2 separate regions of the Homo sapiens genome follow, and region 2 is linked to region 1. The links come from fine-mapping of genetic effects on gene expression. A gene starts in region 1. The other region holds a variant in brackets. All regions are shown on one strand. Distances are between the middles of the regions. Region 1 holds the start of TFG (trafficking from ER to golgi regulator). Region 2 overlaps TFG (trafficking from ER to golgi regulator).

Region 1 (16,277 bases):
GAACTATGCAGAAACTTCTAAAATGTAGAACAGTGGCATAAATATGCTACGTGAGATCAAATGACTTATGTATGACACGTGACATCTCTAACCCTTCTTTACATCAGATAGCAGTTGAGTAGGGTTCCATGACAAAGTTATTTTTTCCTTTCAAATGTTTTCTGTCTCTCTGTGTCCACCCGCCTTTTCTTAAAAAGAAAACACTAAATCTTGGAGAAGTTTTATTAGCAATTATTAATTAGAAAAAATTTTAAAAACCACAAGGAGGTTCAAAGTAACGTTACATGTGTGTCATCTACATTACTTCATTTACTTATGTACCTGTTATAATGCGTACTTGAAAAAAAGATATAAAAGCTGCTGAAAAACTGATTAAGAAGTCAGGAGTAAGGGAAAATAAGAATAGAAACAAAAAGTATGAAGCCAGGGATGAGAGTGAGACCCAAGAATCATAATCTTGTAATTTTGCTAGGAATCAGCCACAAATTAGACTGTAAGCTTTTTAACACTCAACGTAAATATAGAAATATTACACAAATCCATCTCTTAACAATTAAACCAGAATTTCTTGGCGAAAATACAATTATTTTGACTGTACATGAAATTGGCATTAAGTTTCTTTGAAAATGTCCATTTGAATATATTACCAAATCAGAGGGCAAACTATGTTGAACGGAGACCAAGATGAGATTGTTATATCTCATTTGTAAATTCAGTATATTTGCATACATGCCTGCAAGTCTGCTAAGTGCATACACTGAAAAGTTATGTATAATCAGTGTTACTCTGAAGTTACACAATACTATGTACACATAAAGACACACTTAATGCACCACAGGAAACTTTAGTATCAAAAGTGGATCAGTGAGGAGTTTTTTGTTGTTGTTGTTTGTTTGTTTGTTTGAGATGGAGTCTCGCTCTGTCGCCCAGGCTGGAGGGCAGTGGCACCATCTTGGCTCACTGCAACCTCCGCCTCCTGGGTTCAAGCGATTCTTCTGGCTCAGCCTCTCCAGAAGTTGGGAGTACAGGCACGCGCCACCATGCCTGGATAATTTTTGTATTTTTAGTAGAGACGGGGTTTCACCATATTGTCCAGAATGGTTTCGAACTCCTGACCTCGTGATCCGCCCACCTTGGCCTCCCAAAGTGCTGGGATTACAGGCTTGAGCCACTGGGCTGGGCCTTTTTTTTTTTTTTTTTTTGTCTTTTGTCTTATATTTGTGTTCCTTAATTTTGACTGGTGAAATTAGTTTTCCTTTTGCTTGCTTGCTTTGGTAGAGGGTTTGCTTTTTTTCATTTTTAAATTAATTTTATTGATGTATGATTTATATACAATAAAATACACTCATTTTAAGTGCACAATTAGATGAGTTTTAACAAATTCATACACCTGTAAAACTACTGTGCCAGACAAGATTAAACATGTTTCCATGACTGCATAACATTCCTTCATGCTTCTTCCCCTATTCTAATCCCCAGGCAACCACTGATCTGCTTTCTATCATCAGATCCATCAGATACACACCATTCTGTCTCTTCCAGAATATCACACGAATCATACAGTATGTTCTCTTCTGAGTCTAGGTTCTCTCACTCAGGATGTTTTTGAGATTCATCTATATTGTTGTGTGTATCAGTGGTTAGTTTCTTTTTATTGCTAAGTAGTATTTAATTGTTTGGATATACCACAATTTGTTTATGCATTCACCAGTTCATGGGCATTTTGTTGTTTCCAAGTTTTGACTATTGTGAAATTAAAGCGCTATTAACATTGTTATACAAGTCTTTGTGTGGGTATGTTTATTCTCTCTCTCTGTTGAAATACCTGGCCATGTGCAGTGGTTCACGCCTGTAATTCCAGCAATTTAGGAGGGCAGGATTGCTTGAGCTCAGGAGTTTGAGACTAGCCTGGACAACATGGTGAAACCCCGTCTCTGAATCTAAAAAAAAAATTAAATAAGAAATATGTAGTGAAATTGCTGAGTCATAGAGTAAGTGTGTATTTACCTTTAAAAGAAACCACCAGTTTTCTAAAATGTTTGTACCATTTTATGCTCCCAACAGCAATATATGAAAGTTTTGAAGTCCAATTTGTGAAGTATTTCAGAAACTGAAAATAGGTTATTTATATTTTTTGTAGGCCACTGATCATGTTTCTAAAAAAATTCCATATATGTTAACCCTTTAACAAACAGAAGAAAAAGGAACGCAGAGTGGTATGCCTTAACGCTGCTATCTTTTACAAAGTATTTCTCATAGAACTATAGTTCAATTCTTATCTGTATTTTTCTTGCAACCTTGCAAGTTGGTGCTTTTGTACACGTGGAAGTGTGACCTTTATAATTTGCTGAACTTTAATATAAGCTGCTATGAAGCCACGATATAACAACTGAGACTTTATGGACCTTTGTGATAAAAAAAAGAAAATGGTATTTCTAGCCCTGTACTCAGTAGGCAACAGCAGGGTAAAGAAGAATTCCGGACTGGGAGTTGTCATCTCAGCTATAAGTTATGTGACTTGTGGCAAGACATTTACCCCATTTACCCAGGCATCAGAACCTGAGGCTCTGTCTCTATAAAGGAACTGGCAAGACTAGGTGAACTCTAAATTTCCTACTATCTCTAAAATTTTGTGAATCTAACTGCAGGCTGAAATTGTTCTTAAATTAACTTAAAATATTTTCTCATCTAAGAAACACATGAATATGTTTTCCTTAAAAGAAAAACAAAAAACCCAACAACAAAGAACAAATTAGAGTGTTCCAGATAGAGCTAAAGTCCCCTTTGACCATTACCACCAAATCCAAGCCCCTCTTGTCTTTTTCCTCTTCTCCCCAGAATTAACCACTGTAATGAGCTTTGTGTGTAAACTTTCAGATTTTAAAGAAATATGTGCATACATTATACACTCATAGCAACTCATAGTCTTGTGTACTTTCTTTTACATAAATGGTATAAGGAACTGTGTCAGTGGTCCCTAAGACCACTCCCACGTTTGATGAATCACTAGAAGCACTCATTAGATTCGGCAAAGACTCACATTCATAGCTATTATTTATTACGAAGGGATATAAAGCAAAACCAGCAAAGGAAAACGTTGCATGGGGAGAAGTGCAGAGGAAACCAGAGCAAACTTCCAGGAGTTCTCTTCCAGTGGAGTCACACGTGATGCACTTAATTTCTCCAGCAACAAACTGTGACAACATGTGAAATATTGTCTACCAGGAAATCTCATGAAAGATTCATTAATCAGGGTTTTTATTGGGGCCTGGTCACATAGGCACCCACTGCCTGGCATGTACCAAAATTCTAGACTTCAAGAAAGCAGGTATTCTGCATAAATCACATTGTACAAACAGTTTAGACACAGTTCACCATTCTTATCAAATATGGGATGAGAACACTCCTAAAATCCAATTTCTCAGACACCAGCCAACGGCCAATCTTGCAAGTGGGCCTTTCTGAGGACAGCAGATTCAGGCTGCTATGTTAACTATTTTCTTCACACTAACGTAACTTCCTAAAACTTGCTTTTTGCACTCATCAAAATGTTTTTGATATCTAACTGTATGCATGTGTACATTTCTTTTAATTGCTCTATAGTCTTTCATTTGAAAACAAAACAATGGGTGTGCTCTTATGTGCAAGCGTTTCTCTGGTACACTGTAAATGAAATTGTTGTGTCATAAGGCATTTTAGATGTTGATACAAACTAATGTCCCCACAACAAAGCATGAATGCCTATTTTGCCACATACTTTTTTTTTTTACAAAGTGTTATGTAACTATTTTATTTTTCTCAGATGAATATATGAAAAATGGTATCTCATTGTGGTTTTACTTTGCATCTTTTATTATAAGTCTCTCTTTATTGAAATGGCTTTTTGAGAATGCTGTTTAATTATGCATTTATATGGAGGGACTAAAAGCAGGATCCTTGGCATAAATGTTAGATTAGAGACATGAGTGTCTCCAAGTACCCAGAGTTTGATTTTGTCTCTGATATGCATGATTCCTAGACTCTGGCAACTAGGTTTCTTTTACTTTTCTTTTTCTTCTTTTTTTTTTTTTTTTTTTTTTTTGAGAGAGTCTCACTCTGTCACCCAGGCTGGAGTGCAATGGCGTGAGATCATGGCTCACTGAAGCCTTGACCTTCTTGGGCTCAAGGGATCCTCCTGCCTCAGCCTCCCAAGTAGCTGAGACTACACGTACATGCCACTATGCCTGGCTAATTTTTTTGATTTTTATTTTTAGTAGAGACAGGGTCTCACTATATTGCCCAGGCTGGTTTTAAACTCTGGGGTCAAGTGATCATCCTGCCTTGGGCTCCCAAAGTGCTGGGATTATAGGCATGAGGAGCCACCACACTGGGCTTCGGTTTCTTTCTTTCTTTTGGAGCTGGAGTCTCGCTCTGTCACCCAGGCTGGAGTGCAGTGGCACGAACTTGGCTCACTGCAACCTCCACCTCCCAGGTTCAAGCAATTCTCCTGTCTCAGTCTCCCCAGTATCTGGAATTACAGGCGAATGTCACCATGCCCGGCTAATTGGGCCTAGGTTTCTTAAATGAGCCTAACAAAGCTACTCTTGATCAAATGAAAAGTTATATCTTCTTGCACATCTTGTGGCATTTGTATGAGTCTACTAGGGCTACCATAACAAAACACCACAGACTGGGTGGCTTAAACATCAGAAATTTATTTTCTCATAGTTCTGGAGGCTGGAAATAAAAATTTGGTAAGTTTGGTTTCTTCTGAGGGCTCTCTCCTTGGCTTGCAGAAGGCTGCCTTCTTAATGTATCTTCACATGGCCTTGCCTCTGTGTGCACCCATCTCTGGTTTCTCTCTGTGTGTCCTAATCTCCTCTTCTTATAAGGACATCAGTCATACTGAATTAGGGGCTCACCCCAATGACCTCGTTTTAACTTAATCACCTCTTTAAAGAATCCATCTCCAAATACAGTCACCTTTTGAGGTGGTTCAATATATGAATTCTGGGGGAAGGATGCAATTCAGCTCACAATTGCATTTCTCTTTCAACTTGAAATCTGACAGGTAATTTAGCAGAGAGGTAACTTAGCACTGTCTCCAGGGGATGTAAATGAAGAAAAGTGAATGATTTCAAATTACTAAGAGACAAATCCTACATGGCTAGGGAGTTAGGAACTTACCCGTTGACAGCTGATCCTTTTGTTTTTTCTGGGAGCTTGCCCTGTAAAGTGGTGGGGAACTTAGTTTTCATTATTTTATTCAATAACTATGTATTGAATGTCTAGATCAGCCTCTAGTGATACAAAATCTAGGAAGAACTGCCTTTGAGAGTAGTTTCTCTAAAGAGAGATTGGACATAGAGCATCATGGTAAGGCAAAAGCATTTTAGGGATTTCACGGATGTGAAGCTGGTAGGACAGGTTGAAGTATTTTGCTTAGCTAGTGCTAAGAATCACTCACTCAAAGGTACAAAGTAAGAAATCGTTCCTTTCTCCTTCATTATCTCTGCATAGGGTGGCAGCTTCCTATGTTCACACAAGCAAATCTTTACATTTAGCCAGTGAAGGTGAGGCTGAGCTGACTAGCTGGCTCCTGTTTGGTCCTCATGATTCCCCTTCTGTTTGGAGTTCTCTTTTTTTAGCTAGCTGCTGCCACAACAGAGCTGATTCTTGGCAAGGGACATAACTTCTCGTTGGAAATTCTCATCCAAGGAGGAATGTACACGCTTTCCTTTGTTCTTCTGAGGACATATAAGATGACTCAAATTTTCAAAATGATTTATACTAAGTACTAAAGAAGAACATGATGAAACATAGATTTTATCTAACTTGCTAACAGGGCTCATAGTCTTTGTCTCATTTCTTGTCCAGTCTGAGAATCCCGTTTTCATTCTTAGGATTTTTTCCCCCCATTCCATGTGAGGAGTTTTAGCTACACAGACTTTCAGGGAGAAAGAGCAGGTGGTAGCTAAGTTGGTTGGTTGACTCCTTCTCTTAAAATCACAGTGTAAGTCTTAACCCTTCTTCAGATGAAACATGGAAAATAACCTGTGTAGTGCAGAATCTCATATCTTTCCTTGCTACAGTCTGGGTCAAAGATATTTCCTTGCACTCCTTCTCCTTCCTTCACATATCCTCAACTTTAATATACTACCATTAAGCAGTATTTTCTTTTCTTTTTTTTCTTAGCAGTTCCTTGGAAGAAATGAGTAGTATTTTCTAGTTCAAGACTATGCTCAGTGTTCATTTAAAACCAAATTCATCTAGATGCAGAAAAGAAGGCCAGTATGTATCTACAGACATAGTAGAAGAGACCCATCTTCTTGTAAGTGAGGTAACTGGTTCAATTCAGGTTATGGCTCTGTCACTAGATATCACCTGTATTTATTGGGAGCTTAAGTACATAGATGTGCATCAGCTTCGACTTGAGAAATCACCAGAACCCCACCTCTCAAGTTCCACAGAAGTAGCTGGGAATAGGCTTTACCATAAAGAAGACTTTACTGATGGCTTCGGGATGAAGCATGAGGGAAATTACAACATAAAGAGCCTCAAGTTGCTTTCGGAGTCCATGAGCTCCATGAGCTCCAGCTTTTCCACAAGGCCAGCTTATGGGTGCCTCTCTTCCTAGCGTACAGATGACCACAGTGTAACAGGGACCAGCTTATTTCTCCTCAGTAGCAGGACTCTTGAGTGCCCCCTCACTGGGGATCCTCAGCAGATACTCTTTTCACCTTATAATAGGCCAAGGTTCACCTCCTTATCTCCTGCCTCAGGATCTGACCTCTTTTTAGTTTAAATATACTACTATAACAGTAGTATAATTCACTTCCTTCAGGGAATATTTTACCTTTGCCATATGGTTGTGGTTTTACCCCATCCCAAACCATCTTAATGACATCATAATACTATTATCTGACAGCAGTGCATCTCCCCAAATCTGTATTATTCAGTTTTAAAAAATAAGCAATGAATAACATTCTTTGGAGAGCAATTAGGAACTGTTTTTCATTTCTTCTGCAGTACTCCACTCCCTTATCCCTGCAAACAATTGCTCAAAGGTCAATACAACTGTTGGAAAATACAAATCAGAAGTGAACAGTGTAAACTTACATTATTTCACTCTCAAACAGAAGTTTCAGAGACTTATAACTGAAAAAGATCACACTACTTATGGTTGTAAAAGAACGTAGCTTCTCACCCTGAAACACCAGAATTTACTCCAGGTCCTTTAGGAGTATCTGGTGTTAAAGCAAACTAAATATGGCCTGAGAAGGACTCCATACATCTATACTTGAATCCTTGTGGATGAACTGTAACCTAGCTTAACAGACAAGATTGAAAACCTAACTTAGAAGTATGCGTCTCTTACAATAAGCGAGTCTTGGCCAATTCCAGCCGCCACACTTCAATCACTCATAGACTGCTAAGTGTTCAAATAAGGCCAACGCCAACCTGTAACCAATCCAGCTGTTTCTGTACTTCACTGCCAATTTCTGTACCTCATTTCCCTTTTTTTGTCTATAAATCTTCCACCACGTGGCTCTGCTGGAGTCTCTTAATCTGCTGTGATTCTGGGGGCTGCCCAATTCGTGAAATCGTTCACTGCTCAATTAAACTCCTTTAAATTTAATTCAGCTTAAGTTTTTCTTTTATAACTGGTAAACAACTGGAGACCAGGTAGGGTCTAAATGCTTTATTTATCAGCTTAGTCTCCACCTTAGAAGTGACAAACATTCTCCGTTTGGCCAAACTTCGGGCTCCTGGGCCTTCTCCTAGGACCATCTGTGCATCTTCTTGTAAAACTCAGTTTCAGCAAAGAACCTTGTTAAGGCAGTGTAGTGAGAATCCCTCACCCTTGATGGGGTTCCTCATCCTCCACCACCCCCAGGTGATGTCTGCTATCCTGGCCTATCTTCGTCTAGAATCCTGTTGTGTTGGTTTAGCCAGAATCTCCCTTGCCCCTGATATTTCCTCTTAGTAATTTTCCATCCACTGACCGACTTCCACCCCTTGGCTATAAATTCCTACTTACTCATACTGTATTTCTATTTGAACAGGTAAGGGAGAAGGGAAGAGTACGTAGGACACACTCAAATGCCTTATCCTCTAAAAATCACTCAGGAATCTTTAGCCTTAATTTCCCAGCTTTTGTCCTTTACACAGTTACAGATTTTCCTTGCTCATAAACGCTGTAGGTCTTCCCTGCTTAATTGGAAACTCCTTGCTCACAAAATGATTCACCCCCATTCCTAGAACCGGGCTTGGCAAAGCATAGGCTCCCAATAATGAATGAATGGATTTATAGAAGAAAAGGTTTTTTCTTTTTCAGCTGTTACTACAATGGTCAACAATAACGACAAAAACCACTTAAAGTTGGACAGACGTCTACTGCAACCAACTCTCAAAAAGTTTAGAACAGCGCACTACGCCCCGCCCATTGGCGAGAAACGGAAATACCCGCTTTCGAGAAAACCGGAAGTGCGTGGTCACGCCCCGCGCATGCGTGCATCGGGGCAGCTCACGCTTCCTAAATCCCGTCATCCAGTGAGAAAGCAGGGACTCTTCGGCCTAGGCAGCCGGGACCCAGCCAGCCCTGCGCCTCGCGCCGTCGCGCATGCGTCCTGGGTATGTCCACGCGCAATAAGGAGGGGCGAAAGGACATTTTTTTTTTTCTTGCTCCCGCCTCTGTTCTTCCCCCACCTGCCACGTACAGAGCCCAAGTTCTCGCTAGGCTTGTTGGGTCAGCGCGATTGGCCGGGGCCCGCGCGAGCCTGCGAGCGAGGTGCGGCGGTCGCGAAGGGCAACCGAGGGGGCCGTGACCACCGCCTCCCCGCGACGCCCCAGTCCAGTGGCCTCGCGTCCGCCCATTCAGCGGAGACCTGCGGAGAGGCGGCGGCCGCGGCCTCCGCAAGCCGGTATGGCCACTGGAGACGGGGGTTGCGGGCGCTCTGTCCGAGGAGGCCGGGAGACTAGGAGGCGCTGGGAGGGCCTCGTTCGAACCGCGCGGCAGCTGGGGTCGGAGGCACTGTGGGAAGGGGCTGGAGGGAGGAGGGGGTGGGAGGGAGGAGGGGGTGGGAGGGAGGACGAGGCCGGGGGGGAGGGCGGGCGGGGCCTTGCATGGGGGGAGGGGAAGGGAGGTCGCGGAGGGGGAGGGGAGAGAGGCAACCCCTGGCTGCGGTGGCCAGGAGGCGCGCCTGGGGGGCTCCGGGAGGGGAGTGCGCCAGCTAATGCCTTGGTGCAGCCTGCCTCCAAGCGTTTGGATTGAGAGGAGAGGGGCTTTGGGAGGTTTGGGGCGGCCGGCGCCCAATACCCGAAGGAGCTCGGAAGGGTGTGGAGTGGCGCCTACGGGAATAAGTTGATTGGGGTCATAGAATCGGAGCCTAGTTCCTTGGCTAAGTCAGCGCTTAATCAAGCGCCGGCTGGAGGCCCAGCCTGGTTTATAGTGATGATTCTAGCTAACTTTAAGAGTTTGCTTTGCTGGACACTACAGTAAGTATTTTGGATGCACTGTCTCATTTAATCATCACAAGGATTCCTCCAAATTCAGATATGGTTGTTTTCATTTCGAATGTGATGAAAGTGAGCCTTGGAGGACTTAAGATCACATAGCTAGTAGTGAGAATCTTTACCGTCTTGCTGCACTGCCTTTGAGGCAGGGTTTGAGGCCTCTTGGCATTCTTTAGAATAATTACAGGTTGACTTGGCTTAGTATTTCTTGAAGGAAACTGCTCCCCTCAGGAGGTGCTTAAGCCACAGCCTCTGAAATTGAGCAGGGTCTTACCCTTAGAGGTAGTAGAACCAGAAGTTTGTCCGCCGAACCTAGAACCTGGTTCAGGAGGCAGGCTTTTTATATGACCTTGGGCGTGTCAGATTATTCCCAGTGCTGAGAAAAGTGTACCTGGTAGAGGGTTATATTATACAAGTTAGAAGCCGAGTCATTTCTGGACTTCAGAGGGGGCGGGGCAAGGACAAGATGGGAGAAGAGCTTGTCGTAGGGCTCCTACTGGCAGTTCTAGGAACTAGTTAATACCAGTCTCTACTTTGGAAGAGAAAATGAGTACCAGAATTCTGTATGTGAAGTAATGTTGGGTTGGGATTTCCCCTTGAAGGGAAAGTTTTGTTGCACACTTACTTTTGAGATACTTTTGTGTTTACTCTGGGGAGATGACTGCAAGAGCAAACGACAGCTTTAGGAAAGAAGCACTGGTTCCTGGCCACAAGATGTTTACAGTCAATAGGAAACACAAAAAGTGAATTTGCAGGTAAACACGGCAGATAGAAAGTATACGTGACTCAATTTTTTTTTTTTTTTGAGACGGAGTCTGGCTCTGTCGCCCAGGCTGTAGTGCAGTGGCGTGATCCCCCAGCTCACTGCAACCTCCGCCTCCCGGGTTCAAGCGATTCTCCTGCCTCAGTCTCCTGAGTATCTGGGATTACAGGCGTGCGCCACGACAACTGGCTCATTTTTGTATTTTTAGTAGAGACAGGGTTTCACCCTGTTGATCGGTCTGGTCTTGGACTCCTGACCTCGTGATCTGCCCGCCTCGGCCTCCCAAAGTGCTGGGATTACAGGTGTGAGCCACCGTGCCCGGCCCTCAAATTTTAAATCCATTGAAATTGGGCAACAAACCCGTACCCCAGTCAGAAGGACATACCATCAATTATCTTCAAAGCTGGAATTTTTTTCTTAATTAGGAGTGTGTCTGATGGAAGTCACTTCTAGCTACATAAAGAAGGTACAGTGTGAGGGGTCGGATGTAAAAACTGATCTATATTACAGCTTTCTTCTCCCATAATTAAAAAATTTAAACAAAGTCTTTAAATTCTATATGTCAGGCACTTTTCTAGGTGCTGCTGGGAATAGATAGTACCAGCTCACTGAAGCTAAGCACTGGTTCCTTTTACATTATTGCTGGTTTACACTTCTTGTAGGAAGGAGAAGGTAACAAATACATTGATTTATTGAAAGGTCTTTATTACTCTTAGGCTGCCAGAGCAAGCAAGATGGAATATTTACCATCTTGGTGAAGTAATTATACTTTAGAGTTGGCACATAGTAGGTATTTAATAAGTAGTTCCTGAATACCGAAAGCATTGCAGAAGGCATTGCAGAAGGCGAAGAGTTGGTTGTGTGGAGATTTCTGTTAATCACTGTCTTCACGAGAAGTCCATTGTGAGAACTGGCAGATAAAAAGCTAACTGTATTCTTATTTTGCATTAAGATAAGCATGGCATCCCTAGAGTGGAATGCAGTTCACTCTGTTCTGCATTGACCTTAGAGTGTTATATTTAGTTTTAATGACCCATTTCATTGAAGATTTATTAATAAAATATCTGTTGAGAGCATGGTGAGGGGTCTAGAGATATTAATTTAAGGACTAGTTAGATGGAAGGACCTAGCGTATTTATATGAAGAATAGTAGGGCATTAATATATAATATTCATATAATAGGATTCATGAAAACTTTTTTGAAGTACTTGAAGGGTTGATATGTTGGGGGAGTAGGTGAGTGCTTTCACATACCCCGAAAGAATAAAGAATAATTGCAGAGAAGTGTGGTGTTAATGAAATAACAGATTTAAGAGGAGGAAGCAGAAAGCTGCTAGTAGTAAGGCGGGAAGTTGAAACTAGAATGTGGCCAGTAGTAGTTTGTAGGATACCTTGAAAAGTCTCAAGAGATCATTTTCTTGGGGCAGGAGGAGGAAGGAGTTATGCTTGGAAAATGTTCAGCGATTATAGATAACATTCAGGAACATCTTGGCCTTGAGAAGAAGAGATATTAATCCATTATTTTTCCCTTTATTTAATAGCTGTTGAATGACTGTTGTCTGCTAGGCACTGTTGTAGACTCTGGGAATATGGAAAACATAATCGTTTACTTCCTACCATCAAGTGGAAAAGACAATAAAATGTTATAAATTTTTAATGTCTGGTAGTGTTAAGTGCTTTGAAGAAAAATAAAGCAGGATAAGAAGATAATGCCAGGGGAGCCATTTTAAATTAGATGGTTAGGAAAGATCTCTCTCAGTTAACACTTGATAAGGAATCTGAATCATATGAGGGGTATCAGAAAGGGTCAAGACAAAGGGAAAACTTGAAGTATGGGAATAGCAGGGGTGAGTGAAGAAGAGAGGTAGGAAATGAAGTTAAATACTTGGCCAGGGACTGGAGGCCAGATGATTTTATAGGTCTTGCTTTTTGGGATGAGAATGCATTGGAAGGTTTTGAACAGAATGATACTAGGTTTTACTTAACAGTGTTAACTCTGGTGTTCTGAGACTAGATTAAAAGTGGGCAAAGGTAAAAAGCAGGCAGACTGGTTAGGAGTCTTTTCCAGTCATTTAGGCAAGTGATGATGGTGGCTTGAATCAAGTTGATAGCAGTGAAGGTGCTGAAGTGGTTGGACCCCAGAGTTATTTTAAAGGCAGTGGCAACCATATTTTCTTGGCAGTTTGGATGTAAGGTTTGAGAGAGAGAGATCAACCAAGATTTTTTTGTCTTATACAACTCGAAGGAAGATAAAGAAGCCTCTAGGAGAGGCAGGTTTTAGGTGGAAGATCAGGAATTTATTTTTAGATATATTAAGAAAAATCTAAATGGTCATGTCAGATGAACAGTTAAATATGAGAAAAAATAATAGTAGACGTAAAATAAAAGCTTATTTTATTATCCCTACAGTAAAATAATGTTGCCTCCAGACCATTTTAACATAAATATGGTAACATGGGGATAATGAATCTTTTGGAGGCTAGAGTTTCTTAGCATCTAATAGTAGCTTTGCTCTCAACTTTTACGGTATGTTTTGTTGTTTAATTATCAAAACCACTTTTATCAGTCTTTCTCTAGAGTTGTATATATAGAACATCCTGGAGTCCACCATGAACGGACAGTTGGATCTAAGTGGGAAGCTAATCATCAAAGCTCAACTTGGGGAGGATATTCGGCGAATTCCTATTCATAATGAAGATATTACTTATGATGAATTAGTGCTAATGATGCAACGAGTTTTCAGAGGAAAACTTCTGAGTAATGATGAAGTAACAATAAAGTATAAAGATGAAGGTAAGAGTGTTTTTAAAGCTATTTTTTAAAGTCTTTTTAAAAAAAAAAAAAAAAAGACAGAGCCTCTGTTGCCCAGGCTGGAGTACAGTGGTGTGATCATAGCTCAGTGTCACCTCAAACTCCTGGGCTCAAGCAATCCTGCCTCGGCCTCCCAAAGTGCTGGGATTACAGGCATGAACTGCCATGCCTGACCTTAAAGTCTTAAGTATTGTATGTGTTATTTTGCCCATTTTTATTGGACTCTTTCCCATCCTCTCTTCACGGTAGTTGAGACCTCACTTTCTTGTATTGAATGTGATGTTCCTATAGTTACTATAATTCTCTCATCAGTTAAAATTAGCTAAGTGGGGCCGGGCGCAGCAGCTCATGCCTGTAATCCCAGCACTTTGGGAGACCGAGGTAGGCGGATCATTTGAGGTCAGGAGTTCAAGATCAGCCTGGCCAACATGGCGAAACCCTGTCTCTACTAAAAATACCAAAAATTAGCTGGGCGTGGTGGTGTGCGCCTGTAATCCCAACTACTCGGGAGGATGAGGCAGAGAATTACTTGAACCCGGGAGGTGGAGCTTACATTGAGCCAAGATCGTGCCACTGCACTCCAGCCTGGGTGACACAGCAAGACTCCGTCTCAAAAAAAAAAAAATAGCTAATTGGTTTATTAGAAGGGAATTTTAAGTGTTAGAACATTTTCACATACATTTTTTTTACAAGCATTATTTTCTCCTTTTGTCCATATAATTCTGGTTTCTTTTAGCTTAAAAAAATTTTTTTTCTATTCTTATTTCCCGAAATGAAAGGTTTTAGTATGTATTGAATGAAAAAGGATTTTATGGTCAACTAAGTAAGGGAAAGCTGGTTTAAACAAAGACAAAAGTGTTTCTTTATTGTAGGAGTTTTCAGATTATGTAATATGCTTATATACATTTTCAGAAGTTAGTAGTATGCAGTGTTCCCAGACTCATTTGTTGACAAAATTATCTTTATGGAAATAGGTTTTGAATGAAAAATGTTTCGGCAAACACACTGAGTAGAATTATAGTAGTAGACTGTATTTCCTATTCTTCAACCTGCCTTCTTTGTTAATATCTCTGCTGAAATTTTCTCTTTAGGTGGTTACCAGTGTTTTTTACTGTGGAACTTACTTGCAGTGTATTTAATCTTGACCTCACTGTTTAGCACTGCTACCCACACCATCCTTGTTTTTAAATACTTTTACCTCTTAACATCTCTGACACTGCTTAACCTAGTTTTCTTATCACTAACAGTTTTTTCTCTGTCTGTGTTAGGGTTGGGCTTAAAGTAATGCCAGCAGATATAATAGAAATCTTAAAATCTGAGTGGTTTAATAGTTGAGAAATCTTTCAGGGATCCAGGTTGAAAGAAGCTGTTACCTTCAACACATGGCTTATAAGCTCACCATAGGCATTGACATTGGCAAGCAGATGAGTGAAGACAGAGTATGAAGAATCATATGGGAGATTTTACTCACTAGGCCTGATGGTGTTGTATGTCATTTCTGCCCTTATGACATTGGTCAGTACCCAGTTACATGGCTTTGCTAAGATGCAAATGGGTTGGGAAGTATAGTCCCTGGCTGAGCAGCCACTTAGCACAACTTATACTGTGGAGGAGAAGTGTAAATCACTGGTGATCAGTTAAATTGACCATCTAGCTAAAGGTATAATTCTCCTTTGTTTTTGTGATGTGTAGTCTAAGAATACCCAAAACAAATTTTTGAGAGTTGCCCATGTTAAGAAACAATAAAGGATAGTACTTTTTTCCTGTTTTCTTATGCTTATCATACATTGATTTGCACCTCTGTGACTTTGAAATGTGTGTCTTAATTTGATCAGTGAATTTTTTTTTTTTTTGAGACAGGGTCTCACTCTCATCCAGGCTACAGTGCAGTGGCATGATTATAGCTCATCATAACCTTTAACTCCTGTCCCCAGGCAATACTGCCAACCCGGCCTCCCAAAGGCATAAGCCACCATGCCCAGCCTACAATTCAGATTTTTAACTTTTTTTTTTTTTTAGCAAAGTCCCAAGAGTACTTTTTTTTTTAAATTTTGTTTTAATTGACAAATAATAATTGTACATATTTATGGGGTACATAGTAATGTTTCATTACATATAATGGGATTAGATCAGGGTAATTCGCATATCCATCACCTCAAATATTTATTTCTTTGGGTTAGAAACATTCAATATTCTCCTTCTAGCTATTTGAAATTATATAATATGTTATTGTTAACTGTAGTCATCCTATAGTGCTATAGAACACTGGAACTACTTCTATCTAGTTGTACTTTTGTGTCTTTTAATAAATCTCTCCCTATCCCTCTTTTCCCCTACCCTTTGCAGCCTCTACTGTCATCTGTTCTGCTTTTTACTTGTATAAGATCAACTTTTTTTAGCTTCCACATATGAGAGAGAGCATGTGGTATCTTTTTAACTTAATGTCTTCCAGTTCCATCCATGTTGCTGTGAATGACAGGACTTCATTCTTTTTTATGGCTGAATTGTATTCCATTGTGTATATATACCATATTTTCTTTATCAGTTAATCTGTTGTTAGACACTTAGGTTGATTCCATATCTTGACTATTGTGAATAGTGCTGCAGTAAAATGTGAGTGCAGATTTCTCTTCAATATACTGGTTTCCTTTCCTTTAGTTAAATATTCAGTAGTGGCATCGCTGAATTGTGTGTTAGTTCGATTTATAGTTTTTTGAGGAACCTTCATACTGTTCTCCCTAGTGGCTGTACTGTTGACATTCCTACCAATAATGTGTAAGAGTTCCCTTTTCTCTTCATTCTTGCCAGCATTTGTTATTTATCTTTTTGATAATAACCATCCTAACTGGGGTGAACCTTGTTGTGGTCTTCATTTTCCTGATATGTGTGCATTTCCCTGATGATTTGTGATTTTGAGCATTTTTTCATATATTTATTGACCATTTCTATGTCTTTTTTTGAGAAATGTCTGTTCAGATCATTTGCCGATTTTAAAATCGGATTGATTGTTTTTTAGCTGTTGAGATGTTTGAGTTCCTTCTATATTCTGAATATTCATCCTCTGCCAGATGAGTAGTTGTATTTCCTCCCATTCTGTAAGTTCTCTTTTCACTCTTGATTGTTTCCTTTGCTGTGCAGAAAAGTTTTCCAGTTTGAGATAATCATATTTATTTTTGCTTTTATTGACTGCACTTTTGAGGTCTTATTC
Region 2 (16,277 bases), 42 kb after region 1:
AAATTGAAGTGCCCAGAGAAAACCCACACAGACTTGGGGAGAATGTGCAGACTCTACACAGAACAGTAACCCCAACTGGGAATAATTTTTTTTTCCTTCTCAGTGTTTTAACGAAACAATGTCGAACAAAAGATGTTATTTGAGGATCTGCTGTGTAAAAGGAATCTTGTGTAGAGATATAATAAACCTCTGAAATTTTTAACTCTAGGGATGTTTTTCAAAATCAATTTATAGCAGTTTATGAAAACATGCAAAAAAAAAAAGCTTTATGAAGAGTTGTACCCTATAAATTTTTATTGAGGGGAATAACTGTGGTTTTGACCAGGAGTTCCTTACTCATTGATGACCACAGTCTACTACTACGTGGAACCTTAATCTCAGCCTTTTTTGATGATGCCCAAGTTAATATTTATATTGTTTTGTTCATGGGATAATATATGCAAAATGACTTTATAAACTAAAGCTTTGGAGTTATGCCTGAGTTCCAGTGATGGTTCTTAGCTCTTCATGGTTCTGTTCTTAGCTATTGACTGCAGGTAAGTTGCTTAATTTTTCTGTATCTGAGATAAGGAATACTAATATGGTTGAATTTTTTTAAATGTGTTTATTGCCTGTTTGCTTATTTTTTTATTGTGGAGTTAAGCCTTCTAATTTTCAAGAATTAAGAGTTCATTGTTATGTGCTATACGTATTTATTCCCCTTGATTATATTTCTGTACCTACTTACCTTTTTATTTTAGATTCTGGTCACTTCTATTCCGAAAGTTAGTTATGAAGTACAATCCAGGATTAAGGTGGCATCTAAATTTGGTTAATTTCTGTGCTACCTTTTATGCTATTAGTCTAAATCATTAAGAAAGCATTTAAGAAACTTTTGTAAGCGTTTCTTTTTTTTTCTTGTCATATTTGGGAATAGGATAAATAGCTTAAAATAGTTGAGCTGATTTTTATTTGTATTCTTTTTTTATTATAAAGAAACATTTGCTAGGAAATAAGCTGGATATAAACATAGTTGTATCTCCTTTAGTGCTACCCAGCACTAAAAACTTAGACACGTATAGGGCTGAGCAGCTGGTATAATAGAGTGGGCTCCGTCTCATTTTCTAAGCCTGTGAGTCCTAGCTGCCTACTGCAGCTCGATTTGAGTGGGAGTTGATATAATGTCTTTTTTTTTTTCTCACTTCAGCAGTAAGTATCTGGTTTGCTCATAGTCTTTTGATTAATAGGTAGTTTGAATATTTTTCAAAGAATCAGCCAACATGTGATTATTTTAAAGATTTAAATACCAGATAGATATTAAAATGCAAGGTTATTGCTACTAGATATTACATCTAGCTAAATCAACCATTGTGAAATAATTGAGAAGTAGAGATAATAAAGACATAAACCAATAAATCTTTGCTTGAAAATCACAGGTATGGGAACAGATTGTGAGGACAGAAAAATAAAAAGTAAAAAGAAAAATCATAGGTAATAAGTGTCTAAAGGGTTTCTTCATAGGAACAGTGGTTGTTGACCCCAAATAGGACAAATAGGACTCCCATGTTCAAGAACACATCACCGTTGTTAAAAAGGTCTGCCATTATTAAATAGTGCAATGAAGAACCATTTAGACTTTATTAGAGTCCACGTTATTGGCAAAAGATGTTGGATATTCATAGAAAATCAAACTTGACAAATTCCAAAAGTGTCTTTCAGCTCTGGAACAAAAGATGTCATATAGTTCCTTGCTACCAAAGAGTTTGTTCATATGGTAATAGAGGCCCATACCTTTAGAGGGCAAATACAGTGCTTTAGGAAGGACTTAGATGATATAAATGGTATTTGTCCCTTTTCTCATTTTTATTTACTGATTTTCAACTCACTTGGCTTTTAATGAACATTAGCGTTACTTATCTGTTGGCAGCTGGGTTGGAAAACATTTGTTTTTCTAGACTTTATGAAATGGTAGCCACTGGTGTTGCACTTAATGTTTATTGCCAGTTAGTTCTCTGCAGTTAATCCACAGCAGAGGAATCACACTTCTAAAATGGTTCATTCTCTTCTTCATAGACATTTAAAGTTGAACAAATACTTTCTTGTATATTGTTACTCTGTTTGGATGGAGAGGGAATGTATATGTATCTTAAAAATATTTCTCTTTGCCACATTAAACATGCCTTTTTTCCTTGTGTGTGTGTGTGTGTGTTTTCAGGTCAGATGTACCAACAGTACCAGCAACAGGCCGGCTATGGTGCACAGCAGCCGCAGGCTCCACCTCAGCAGCCTCAACAGTATGGTATTCAGTATTCAGGTGAGCAGGTGTTGAAAGGGAGTTGGCTCATGGTTTTTTGTTTCTATACTCATTAAACTTTAAGTTCTTAATTCCTTGATTTGTAGTACATTGATATAATAGGTATTAAGTTTTTATTAGGGGAAACAACATTTGTTTTATTTATTTTTAAATATTTTACATTAATATTGTAAATCAACATTTCAGTTTTCTGGTGGGGAGATAAAACTTACAGTAGATGATTCTGCAGTAACTTGTAGTATAAAAAGTTTTTAATACAAAGCTGTCTTACTAACATTATCAGTTTATCTCTTAGGCGACTTAGTGCAAGTTTTCCCCCTTCCCTCCACCTCTCCATTTATATGTAACACGTAATTCCAGTGTACTCTTAGTACCTGTAGAAATATGAACAGTTTACTATACATGGAAAGGTGATGTTATTTAAATAAGAGCTCAATTAAGCTACTTAGATTTTAAAATCTCTTGCAAGTATGTAGGAATACCAGAAATAGGCCATAAAAATAAAATCGTATAAAATGTAATTCAGGCAACTAAGAACATTGTTTAGTTGTTTTAAATAAGCATCCTGAGTATTTTGTTTCTATTTTACCATCTGTCCACTGAAGATTATATGTATTTAAGTATGATAAATATTATTAATGTAACTTTGGCTATAATTCCAGTATTTTTTACAGTTATGTCAGAGAGTTTGTGTCCAACTCTTGTTTTACAGCCAAAGATTGAAGTATCAGAATTTCAACTGTAATTAGAAATAATTTATGCAGGTTGAATCTAGTCTAAATTCTATTTTATAGAGTTTTGTGGTATCAGCTAGAGCAGGAGTCAGTAAAGTATAGCCCACAGGCCAAATCTGGACTATTGCCTGTTTTTTTGAATAAAGTTTTATTGGAACACACTTCTACTTTTATATTCTCTACTGCTACTTGGGCACTAGAATGGCAGAGTTGAGTAGTTGCAACAGAAGACCATGTGGCCCACAAAGCCTAAACTATTTACTATCTGGCTCTTTACAGAAAAGTTTGCTGACTCCTGACCTAGACCATAACATTCTGTCATTAATTAAAATTTGAAATATTTTGACACAATTTTATTTAGATTGTATTTGCTGTAGAGTGACTTAACTTGTAGCTACTTGTTTTTAATTGTATAAAATACATAGAACTTAAGTTTGGATTATATCAGGAGGAAGGTTATTTTTAGGATGCAGTTCTTTTAAAAAAATCAGTGTTACAAACTATGTTATTTATAGAAAGAATAGCAGAGCTGAAGAGATTTAGTCATCATTTAATCTCGGGATTTCGGTCCTCACTATGCTTTAGAATCACCTGGGGGAGGCTATGTGTGGGGCCCCATTCCCAGAGATTTTGAATTTCATTTGATTGGGTGTGGGACTCAGGCGTTTGCATTTTATAAATGAGGCAACTAGTTTTGAAAGAGATTGTGACTTGTCAAAGCACATACAGCCATTCAGTGGAGGGAGCTGGATCAGTTCAGTATTTCCCTGTATCATTCTGCATTCTACAACCTAGACTGGAGTTGGCAGACTTACTCCATAAAAGGCTAGATGTCCTATGTATTAAAAAAAAAACTCACATAATTTCCATATTTCCATTTTTTTGCTATTTCTGATGTCCTTCACCTAAAGTTATTTATTATTTTGGAGGGACGGAAGGGAGACTATATATATACACACACACACATGATAGAAGCATTGCCACATTATGTTCAAGAGACTGGTGGGCTGCTAATGAAATCTTCAGCCTGTAGGGTTATTCCCTCCCCTAAGCAATAATTAAGGATCAGATTACTTCCAGGCCCAGTTAAAAAAAAACAATTCAGATTTCAGGTGCCAGGATGAAAAGGCACTTTTCTTTTTTCTCGCAGTGTTAAAATGAATAGGCATTTTCAGTATAAAGCTGAATCCATCTATTTCTTCAAAACCTTATAGTGAAAATTTAAGTTTTATGTAGAGGATAGGAGAACTTGTATGACATTCAGAATTTTTTATGAGTTGGTTTCAGGTCAGTATTTAGATGCTACCATGAGTTAATGCGTTAAAGATACTTGATTTACTTATTAAGAACTAAGCTTGCTCTTAATAAATTTAGTCAGGGTCTTCACTCTGAGTAAAATTTAGTCTTTTCAAATTATTATCTTTGTATTTCTGATCCTACTAGTCTATTAACTTGAATTTGATTGAGAGATATGGAAATAGTCAACTAAATACTCTGCTTGGAGACTAAGAGGTGGTGGTGGTAACATTGGACCATCTTTGACACTGTTGGTTTGCCAGTTTCCCTCTGACCTTTTCCAGTTTTGTTCATGGACTATGTCATAAAGGTTTCTTTCATGAGTAAATTTTGAACCCAGGTTCAAGGTGAGTTCAGAATATACTCAAATTCATTCAATCCTTTTTTTTTTTAATGCAGGGTTGTACATATTTTAATAATTTTCTTATGTATCTGGTATTTAATGCTGACAGGATTCCAGTCAATGGAGAGGTTTCATTGCAAGTAGCTGCAGGTGTGTTTCATGGTAGAGATAAAAGTTTTCAGTGAAGCAGACTTTCGTTGTAAAAAAAATTACATCCTAGTAAATAATGAATATAGATGTTGCTTTTTATGGGGCAATATGGTATGCTTTTTATGTGTTATGCTGTACTGCTAAGTAAAAATTTTGAGTTGTAAAGGCAAAAAACATCAGATACCAAATCTAAAAGGAATGATTTTAAAGATTGTGAAAATGGTACTTTTTATTTATTTGCAAAATTTAAAGCACCTGATTAGTACAATAAGATGTATTTATAGTATTATTTCATATAAAAATGTTCATTCTCCGCAATGTGTTTTTATTTGATACTGTTAAGTAGGTCTCCCCTGAAAACCTGGTTAATGACTATTTAGCTTTCCCATTTTTGGTCTTCCTAGAAAGTATAATTCTTTCATTTATCATTTGAGCATCTGTTCTAGGAATTATGCTATGTCAGGAATTTGCTCTCAGGGATTATGTCTTAGAGAGTTTAAAAAATTGTAGAGAATGCCTCTTTGATAACTACTTGGTCTTGAAATATTATGTGATGGAATCTACCACTCTGCTTGTTACATACATATTTATTAAATTTCTCACCATTTTTGGTCCACCTAACAGTAAGACTAATTCTTTGGAAAAGTAGTTTTACTAAAAGATAAGATACATGTTATTTATTTTGCCTTTTCAGCAAGCTATAGTCAGCAGACTGGACCTCAACAACCTCAGCAGTTCCAGGGATATGGCCAGCAACCAACTTCCCAGGCACCAGCTCCTGCCTTTTCTGGTCAGCCTCAACAACTGCCTGCTCAGCCGCCACAGCAGTACCAGGCGAGCAATTATCCTGCACAAACTTACACTGCCCAAACTTCTCAGCCTACTAATTATACTGTGGCTCCTGCCTCTCAACCTGGAATGGCTCCAAGCCAACCTGGGGCCTATCAACCAAGACCAGGTTTTACTTCACTTCCTGGAAGTACCATGACCCCTCCTCCAAGTGGGCCTAATCCTTATGCGCGTAACCGTCCTCCCTTTGGTCAGGGCTATACCCAACCTGGACCTGGTTATCGATAAGGAGGCTCCTCTACACCAATTAATGTAGCTGCTAGCTATTGGCCTCCCAAAAGACTCCAGTACTATTTTAATTTGTATTGAAGAAGTTCAGAAATTTAAAAGCAGAGCATTTTTTATGATATCATTGTTGGTGTTAATTGAAAGTATAATTTGCTGGAACACAAAGACCAAAATGAAAGTTTTTTCCTCCCTGCTTAAAAATGTAGCAGCTTCTTAGTTACTTTGGAACACTACTCTTACATGTATAAAGTGATTGACTTGACTTTCTAGCTTCCCTTGTCCGGAGGATATTAAAAT[G/A]CTAGGGTGAGGTTTAGCCATCTTACTTGGCTTTTTACTATTAACATGATGTACTAAAGTAGAGCCCTTTGAGAATACAAGATATTATGTATAAAATGTAACACTGATGATAGGTTAATAAAGATGATTGAATCCATTAGTGGTCTTGAAATTTTAATTTAGTCACTAACATTATGTGAAAAAAGGAACAATTTTTCAGAAGTCCTTATTGGTGTTTGGTCTTAAAATGAAGTATAAACATTTTAACTAACTTACAGATTTCCATTCAGAGAAAACAGTGCCATTTGGTTTTTGCCCTTCCTTTGAAAAAAATGCATTTGGTAATCGTTGGTTTAAAATGAACTTTATTACTTCATAGGATGAAAGGTTAATTTAGGACATAAACAAACAGTAGATATAATGGGGGTTGGTAGAGCCTGAATAAAACTTAGTGATTTTCCTTCTCGATAAAAGGTATAGTTAACATACTGATGAACCATTCAGAAATAACAAACAAAAACTCAATCTTAAAAAAAAACTACATCTCTTTATTGCAGAATTTATACTTGTTTGAAAAATACAAAATGTAGCGTTGATAAGATTGAAGCATGTTGAAAGGTAAGTACAGGGAAAGGTCCTTTCAGAATGACTGCAACAGTGCAGCAAGGATTCCCATTCCCCGCCTAAAGGACAATACCTTTTTAATAGAAATAAATGAGTTAGTTAGTTAGATTTTTATTACAGATTGAATTAAACAGTTACAAAGACATTCTCTGATACATTCATTCATAGAGGTCTTAACGTATAAATACATAGTAAATATCCTATAAAATGGTAGGCAATCTCATCGTGCATTATCTTTTTGTGCTCAGACTTGACTTCACATTCAGTCTCTACATACAGCTTGATTAGAATCATAAAAACAATATGAAGACGATTGCATAAAGGGATAGTTTGACAAAGCATATTCAGATATTGTAACATTTATGGTGGGTAAAAATGTATCTTTTGAAACAATATATTAGACTCCATTTTTAGCTGAAATGAAATTTACTGATTCAATCTTTTTAAGAATTTGTGGATGTTTAAAGGAAATGTATATTAGCATGAATGTGTAACTATTAAACTCCTCCGCAAAGCTATTCAGCTGTTGCTAAAAAATTGAAGTTTAAATATAAAAAATTGAAGTTTAAATATAAATGTGAAAATTCGGACCTTTTTTCCCCAGATATACATGCTGAAGATAATTTGATCCAATAAGTTAAACTAAGTAGAGATTTATGGAATTAACTCATCAATAGGAAGAGTACACATCAATAAAAGTAAATTTTTTTTAAAAAGTATATACCTTTTTGATGTTAATTTTGTTATAAAAGTATCTCAAAACATCATTACAACAGTGTGATAAATAATATACAAATGATCTCTTAAAATACCATGAATAGGGAGCCAGCTTCCCCAAAAATGTTATTCTGTTAACATCAGTATCTTGCTTTCTTAAAATGACTTTGTAAAACCTGATAAATACTCTCAGCAATCTTTTCTAATAATAAACATCTAGTATTGCTATTAATTAGATTGTAGACTTTTATACATAGTAAACAAAATAGCTTTAAATGAATGCGGCATAGTATTTTCAATGATTTTTGTTTGCAATGATGAAACAGAAGGTAACTTTGTGCAGCATCTACCATTTTCCAGGAATTGTAGTCCCACATTCATACCACTGAACATAATTGATTTGGGTGTGACCACCTATTTCTCCAAATTGGACAGGTTCCTGGCGAACTGCTCTGAAATAACCTGAGAGAGAAAATAGTTTCATTTTAATAGCTGCTGTATTATATTTTTGCCCTCACAGCTCATAGATTGAAGGATGTCGTTGACTAGCTGAAGGCTAATCTTAGTGAAGCGAGGTAATTTAGAAAACTGAGAGCAAGAAGTTCTGGTGTTTTTTCCTGAGGTGTAGTCATGGTTGGCTAAAATGGGCACCTGAAAAATTGTTGACATTTGCCGTGTCAAGTTAGGAGGGGATGGTTGGTAGTGAGTTTCACTGCCCATTATGTGTTCAAAGAACTTAGTAGGTCATCTTTCAGTATTGTTGGTATTTTTAAGTGCCCGTGAACAAAATGTGTTACTGAAAAATCGAATCAAATAGTTTATTTAGAGAACCTCCAGGTGATTCTGGACTAATAGGAACAATTAATTTACCCCCTTCTGCACTGCTTAGACAAGGATTAATTTTCAGTCTTATTCAGTCCTCATTACACAGCTTGGTGCCAATGGGTCTTTAGCAATTTACAGAGGTTATTCATTTCCCACAGAATTATTCTAATTATATTTATACAGTTACTTGCAAGGTAAGTACTATTTTTTCCATTTATGATAGCAGTAGTTAAAAAATTTTTTTTCTTAAGGAAATAAAAATAACGCAAGTACACTCAGTATGACAAAACCCATAACATTAATAAATGAGTGATTTAAGTTTGGGAAACTGCTTTTTTATAGCTGTTTTTGCAAGTTTAGAGTTTCTTGAAGTAGAATGCATTTATATTATGTCTGTAATTTCCCTTGGCTCCAGGTTTCTAAGCTGAGAAACTTACATTGAAGTCTTCATTTTTTCCTAGATATGTGGAGCAGTAGTACTATAGAATTCTTTTTAAATTGCTTGCTTTCCTCAGCTTGATTTCTTTCTGAGTTAATCTGTAAAACTCTGTTCTTATGAGGAGGATCAGAAAACATACCTTCTTTGATTGGTAACTGGTCAGAAGTGAGTTGCTGCCCAGTGCGTCCATCTAAAAATGAATCCACAAACTGGCAGTGATCTTCTCCATGGCCCCTCTGATCACCTATGTTATAAAATTTTCCTGAAGAACCAGAAATTAAAAGGATAAAGTTTACTTTCTTACTTTGAAATGTGACAATTTTGAAATCATCATTACTGTTTTTGTACTTTCTCCCCTCATTCTCTATTACCCTAGTTCAAACCAACAATGTTTCTTGCCTACCTGTATTCTTCCTCCCCTCCCTTTCAGGGATTAGTGATCTTTTAAAAATGCATGTCAGTTAATGTTCGTTCTCTCCATAAATTTCCCCAGCAGTCTCCCATTATACTCAGAATAAAATCCAAAGTTCTTACCTGATTTCAAACTCCACATGATTTCACACCTGCCTGCCCCTCCACTTACTAAGTCTGGGCCATACTGGTGGAACTGGCCAGGTGTATTCTACCTTAGGCCTTTGACCTTCTCTTTCCTCTAGACCTTTGTGTGGTTAGTTCCTTCTCAATTTTCTCCTTAGCTAGTGCTAACTAACTTTTTAGAGAGGCCTTCACCTTTTTGAAAATGTTCTTTAAAGTACCTCTATGAAATGTTTACTTATTTATGTATTGTCTATCTCTTCTTACTAAGGAAGGGAAGGAGAGGTAAGCTTTAGGAAAATAGGAAATATCTTTTATGCTGCTTTGTGTTCAGCACTTAGAAGAGTTGAATGACTGAAAAAAATCTACTTTTTAATGTTAGGGCCAGGCCTATTCATTAAAAATTTTTACTCTGTAAATATAGAAAATTATAACCTATTGGGCACGGAGCAGGGGGTTGTAGCTCTTCTAGCATCTTGAAGATGTTATATTCATTCCATGGTTATTGTTAGATTTAGTCACTTTATTGTCAGTCGGTTTTTTTATCCCTGGATGGTTGTAACAAAATGGAGTTTGACCATGGTTAGTGAATGTACATTCCAGTTTGTCATGATGGCACTGTTTTATAATTGCATTTTTATTATTTACCTTCTAATAGCATGTCTTAAATCCTTGCTTTCTAGGAATGATAACTGTTTCCGTAACATTTTGCTCAGAGGAAAACTTGTGTTTACAGCACCCATTCGTGCCTGAAACTCTTAAGAAAAGGCCAAGTTGTACAATGCTGCAAAACATTCCCATAAGTTAAGGGCTGAAAACAGAGCTGGTAGCTCTGCTTACCTGTGAGGGAGTCGCTCAAGTAAATCTTGTATCTGAGAGAGTTGCACAGCTGCACTCCTACAAATTTTTTATACCATGTCCTTTTGACATATTGTTTGCCCTTACACTCTGAGTAAGAGTCTGAATTAAAGGGTCTTTCAGTCCAGATGGCATCTCTTCCTGCTACAAAAGGAAAATAGTTTGAGTTTAGTATCTGACTCTTGGGTCAGATACTTCAAGAAATCAGTTTACAAAATTTGTCAACTTGCTGATACCTTTTTTTCCCCCCATGCTAAATACTGGAGCCAAAAATATTAGAGGGATTTAAACAAGTAAACCCCAGAGTAAGTTTCTGTCAATAGATAAATCTGAGAGCAGCATGTTAAGGTGTTTAGGTGTTGAATAGCCTCTGCAGAGCTGGATGTAGACAGTGTCATTTAGGAGCAAATTTAGGTTTCTTTTTTGTAGCATGTTATAAAGTTTAGACAACTGCTTTAATATGACTTGTTATTAAAAGTGGAAATGAGGGTGTTAATATCTTTTTTTTTTTTTGAGACAGGATCTCACTCTGTTGCCCAAGCTGGATAATGGCTCACTGTAGCATTAACCTCCTGGGCTCAAGTGAACATCCCACCTCAGCCTCCCAAGTAGCTAGGACCACAGGTGTGCATCATCATGCCTAGCTAATTTTTTATTTTTAAATTTTTTGTAGAGAGGGAGTCTCATTACGTTGCCAGGCTGGTCTCCAGCTCCTGGGCTCAAGCAATCCTCCCACCTCAGCCTCTCAGAGTGCTGGGATTACACTGGCTGTTTTATTAAACAGTAATAAGCCTGGTGCATGAGTGAAAGCAAATTTCAAAATGTCCAACTTGTTCCCAGAACATCATGGGTCCTCAGTGTTGTACAATGTGTAGGTAAACATTCACAACTGTTTGGTGTTATAAGAAGACTAAGTGGAAAAACGCGAAATCATGATTCAGATTCTGCCATGCCTGTTCAGTTGAATAAATTTAGAAAAGCATGTAGTTGTGCCTCATTGAGACAGGTACTTACCAGAAACTGGCTCACTCACTCTTGGGTCCGCTGAGGAGAAATAAATAGAAAAGTCAGACCTTACTAGGTAAAACCCCAACATTCCAGTGGCATGGTGAAGATGATGGGGGCTTACACTTGTTAAGAAGTCTTATTTGCAAAATGGTACTCTTTTGCTAAGGATTGAATTTGAAAGTTTGCTTTGTTTTGGAAATTGTTCTTGATTGAATAATCTCCTGCCTGGTAGGTATTCAGCTGTATCTGTTACATGTAATTTGAGTACTTAGGAACATTTGTCGCTGTTCCAGCTTTCACTTGAATTTCAAAAGCTGCTGCTTTTAGTTTGATAGAAAAACTTCATGGTAAAAATCACCAAGATGCCATGAACTACAGTTGGTATAAAAATTATGCAAATATTAATGCTGTATGTGCAGATGTATCTCATTAAGGAATTGGAGATTGTAAGGTCTAATTGGGAAGTTTGACAGCTGTTATTAAACTATCATGGGTTCCCTTTGTGGATGTACTCACTGGTATTTTCATTCTAGACATGCAGGAGAGGATTCATTGACTAGCTTTTTGGAAGAGTATAGATTCATTATGCTTTTTAAATTAAACTGATGTGTCTTTAAGTGAGGAAAAATATGCATGGTGTTTCTCTAAACCTTCATCAGTTTGCTTTTTCCCACAAATGGGTTTTTAGAAATTCAAGAAACAGTACATGTAGTGGGTTTCAAACAAACTTCCTACGCAAAACATTGCTCCACTGTGGCCCTTTTACATCCTTTTTGGGAATTACTGTTGATGTAATTACCTGATTCAGTACTGAATGCCACTGTGTTGCTGACCGGGCCTTCACCAAGCGGGTTTTTGGGTTTCACCTGGAATTCATAACTGTTTAGGGGAAAATAAAAAAATACTTGTAATACATTCTTGAGGGCTAGGAGGCAACATTGCCCTATTATACGGACATCCACTATACTGACATCCCTTTGAAATTATGACAGTGAATGGTAACATATGTTCCAGAAGCAGGTTGAGGAAAGAAAAATGATTTCTTAGTTTTACTATCTGAACAGCTTGTCTAATGTTTGAGTAAGCATTAAGTTAATAAAAAAGATGGTTGTCTTTAAAAATCTCCCAATTAGTACAAATGACTTGGCAGGTTAATAAACATATAAGAAAGTGGTATATGGTAGACAAAGGCTAATTCCAGTAACAAGGAGCCTGTTTCTTTAAGATGTCTCAGCTACTTCCTGGGGCCAAGAAGTGGCAAGATTCCATTTTATTTTCTGTTATCCCAACCCTGAGTATAACCCTGGACTTAGGCCATCTTTCTCACTGTGGAGTTTGAACTACTTATGTCAGAATCACATCATAGGGTGGCAGTGGTGAAAGTGTCTTGTCCTACTCTAGGTATTGAAGCAATTTTTGAGGAGATTCAGGTAAGAATTTATAACTTCCCTAGGTGAGTCATGTGCCCACTGAAGTTTGAGAACTACTAGACTAAGCTATAGTTAGTCTGTTTAACTGTAGACTAAGCTATGGGAATAGATACACATAAATGTTTCTTTGCAAGGACTTCCTAGTTGTATCGCCTGGAACTTGGGTCTTCTGTGGATCACAGGATTCTATGATGTCTCCAGAAAAGAGGCATGGTAATGTTGCCTTACAAAGAGCAGGAACACAAACACAGGCATTTCTCTCCCTCCATACCCCAAATTCATATCGGCCAGTCCCTTAACCTTTTGTTAAACAAAACCCCCAAACAACCCTAGGTCCCTTGGAATTATAAGTTCCGTTGATTGTATCCTTAAGAATTATTCTTCAAATTATTGTGCAGTATTAGCAATTTTTATTCATAAAATATGTAAGCAAAGCAAATCTTTTAAAGAAATGTAAACAGTAAAGCAATTTGCCATTTGCCTGAAATTAAGATTTCCCTTCAGCAGCAAGTGGACTTGGCAGTGAAAGAACATTGAATTCAAAAGTCAACCTGAGTCAGCTAATAATATTTTGAGAGTTTCAGATTTGCTCAAGGCTTTTGGGAGATAAATTTCGTCTTTGAGAAGTTTATAATTAAATAAGAATGCAGAATGCACAAAAGATAGATATTTTATAAACAAGTGAAAAATGGATGACAGCTGTCAGTTTGGTACGGATGGTACTAAATGAGCAGGAAAAAAAATTTGAGTCAGTTTCTTGATCACTGAGGTATTGTGTTAACATTGCTAGTATCTAAGAACAGATTCTAGTGCTACAACAATGGCAACCATTTTCTGAATGCTTACTATGTATCAGATGCATTAGACATTCTACATATATAAAGCAATACAACACATGTAAACCCTGATGAGATAAATCTTATCCTAATTTTCAGCTGAGAGCAATGAGGCTCAAAACACTTGTACTGTTACTATTTTTGCTTTTCAAAACTTTAAAACTGGCCAGGTGCGGTGGCTCGTGCCTGTAATCCCAGCACTTCGGGAGGCCGAGGCAGGCAGATCACATGAGGTCCTGAGTTTGAGACCAGCCTGACCAACATGGAGAAACCCTGTCTCTACTAAAAATACAAAAATTAGCTGGGCATGGTGGCACATGCCTTTGTCATTGTCATTTGCAATGAGAGATTGTTGATACAAAAACACCTTTGTCACCTACAGAAATCACACACACATGGGGTATTTTCACATGAAATATTTTCCAGAGATTAAATTTTTGCTAAGAGGCCTGAAAACAAAACAAAACAAAAAAGCCCATAGAACTACAGTGAACTGAAAATGGAAAAAAAGAAATCATAGCCATCTGGACTTTGATTCAAATGGGCAGTGCATTCCACATTCGTTCCAGGCCATTGCCAAAAGCCCTGTGCTTTGGCCAAGTCTGATTGCTGGAATTGTCTCCATGTCTTTTTATTTCACAGTTACGTACACTTAAGCTCCATTTTCAGCATGCCACATATACAAGCTACTTTTTGGGTTTTTTTTTTTTTTTTTGGCCAATATTTTGTGATATTTGACAAGTTTCAAAGAAATTATTTTGCACTAAATTTAATTAACATGGGAACTGAAAGGCACATTTTTGTTTTGGCCTGATTAAACCCTATATAACAAAAATTATTTGTGTTGGTAAAATTTTTTCTGAAGAAGCACATTTTGTCACAGATGAATGACATCATAGGTCTAAGAGAAATGTCTCAATATTGATTGTACATAGAAAATAAAATTTAAAGTTTCAGGAAACAGTTATTTGAAGTAAGAAACTTCAAATAGAAGTTTTGGAAGATAAAGTTGAGGACATTTCACAAATACTAGAACAAAAAGTCAAAGAGATGAAAAAATGAGAGAAAAGAAAGTTGGAGAATTATTCCAGAGAATATGGTACCCAACTAGTAGGAATTGTAGAAGAAAGAAAGGAAAGGAGATAGAAAATTATCCTAGAAACTTTGTAATAAATTTCCCAGTACTGAAAGACAAGAGTTTCCAGATTGAAAAGACCTACTCTGCCCAGCAAAATGAATAAAAGAAAAAGGACTAAAACATGAGTTACAAAATTTCAGAGTACTGGGGTGATAAAGACAAGTCCTCAAAACTGAGAAGAAAATAGGTCCCGTTCAAGGGATCCAGAATCAGGATGACATTTGACTTTTTAACAGTAACACTGGAAGTTAGAAAATAGAACAATTCCTTCAAAAGTCTTCATTATATCCTAATATGTCCAGCTAAAGAATAGTATCAAAGTAAAACAACTTTTAAAACATGTGAGGACTCAAAAATATTGCCTTTTATAACTTTTCCTCAAGATTTATTTCTTTAGTGCTACAAAGTAATGGAGTAAACAAGGAAGAAGTCTTGTGATGCAGGAATTGGGATTCAAAACAGAGGCAAAGGATGTATAGGAATTCCAAAAGAGATGTTGCCATTAAAAACATACAACAAATAGAACAAAGAAATGACTGGAGTATTTGAGCATCTTGTGAAAAGGTCAGTCTAGACATAGGGATTTAATTGACAGAAGTAATGGACAAAATGGTAAAAAAAAAATTTGCATCTGGGGAACCAAATTTAGCAACAGGGAGGAGATGCTTTTGTGATAATTTAATTTTAAAACTGTACATATATTTCTGATGAAAATTAAAGAACTATAAGACCTACCACATCAAAATGAATATCTAAATGGAATGCAGTCCAGATGACAAATGCTGTCAAGCCTTTTGGCCCCATCTAGGACAAGCCAGGTAAATAAAGCCTCACAGAATGCCATGCCTGATTCTACCTGGGTAGGTGTAAATCCCCTCCAAAAACAAACAAACAAAAAAAAAACAATCTTCCCCGCGCATCCCCATCAGGAGGCAGCATGATCCAGGGGGCGTTAAAAACATGGGTTCTAGAACCAGAAAGATTCACAGCTCACTAATGTGTGACTTTAAGGTAACTTAACCTCTCTGAGCTTCAGTTTACTCTTACATAAAAATGAGGATAATGCTATTTGTGAGGATACTATTCGTTATAGTAATTATAACTTCACGGGGGCTATAAAAGCATCTGTGAGGATTAAATGAGAATGCATGTAAAAGCAAGGTGCTTGACACATAGTAATAAGTATTCACTAGTATCATATTTGTATCTCTAGATAATTTTTTTTAAAGAGTTTCTGTTATTGGGGAATTTGACAAACACTGCCATAGAACTCTCAAGGCAGAACTCTTCTATGGCCACACACTTGCTTTTTGCTTGTGAAGTTTATAAGAAGGGTATAGCCCACGGGTTATTGGAAAGATCGAAAATTTAACAGGTAAACCTTTCTGCCTGCCATCAACATAGATCCACAGGCTAAGAAAAAAATGTTATATTAATATTTCATTGAGTCTAGAAAGCACTAAAAAGCATTATCTCAGAAGAGTGGCATAATAGAGGGTATTGTTTGACACCAACAGTTTGAGAGCAGCTGTAAAAATCAGCATGAGAACAAAAAAACATAGATCAGTTCATTGAAAAGTGAAAAACTAGGATTTCAAAAAGTGTGACCTGTGGCTCATGAGCAAAACTGTTAAGAGACAAGAACCTCCAACCTGTAGGCTTCTAGCCTGAGACTGATTTCTTCTTTAGTGGAAGAGGT

The links. PIP is the estimated chance that this variant, and not a neighbour inherited with it, causes the effect.
Region 2: its variant is fine-mapped to the expression of TFG in whole blood (TOPMed, PIP above 0.99). The same link has a PIP of 0.9 or more in B cells, CD4 T cells, CD8 T cells, NK cells, ileum and monocytes.

The regions. Positions count from the first base shown.
Region 1 is chr3:100,700,819-100,717,095 of GRCh38, forward strand. TFG (trafficking from ER to golgi regulator) reads left to right here and starts at 8,676. Exons shown (of 8, transcript NM_006070.6): 1 at 8,676-8,903; 2 at 12,825-13,051. The coding sequence starts at 12,868. RefSeq lists enhancers at 8,244-9,135, 9,136-10,026 and a silencer at 8,773-9,002.
Region 2 is chr3:100,742,639-100,758,915 of GRCh38, forward strand. TFG (trafficking from ER to golgi regulator) reads left to right here. Exons shown (of 8, transcript NM_006070.6): 7 at 2,195-2,293; 8 at 5,511-6,326. The coding sequence ends at 5,893. It overlaps ABI3BP (ABI family member 3 binding protein), which reads right to left. Exons shown (of 68, transcript NM_001375547.2): 64 at 11,974-12,053; 65 at 11,181-11,210; 66 at 10,149-10,310; 67 at 8,914-9,036; 68 at 6,518-7,972. The coding sequence ends at 7,857. Among named protein-coding and RNA genes, the nearest start is that of TFG, 41 kb to the left of the region's middle. The variant G/A (reference allele first, on the strand shown) is at 6,191.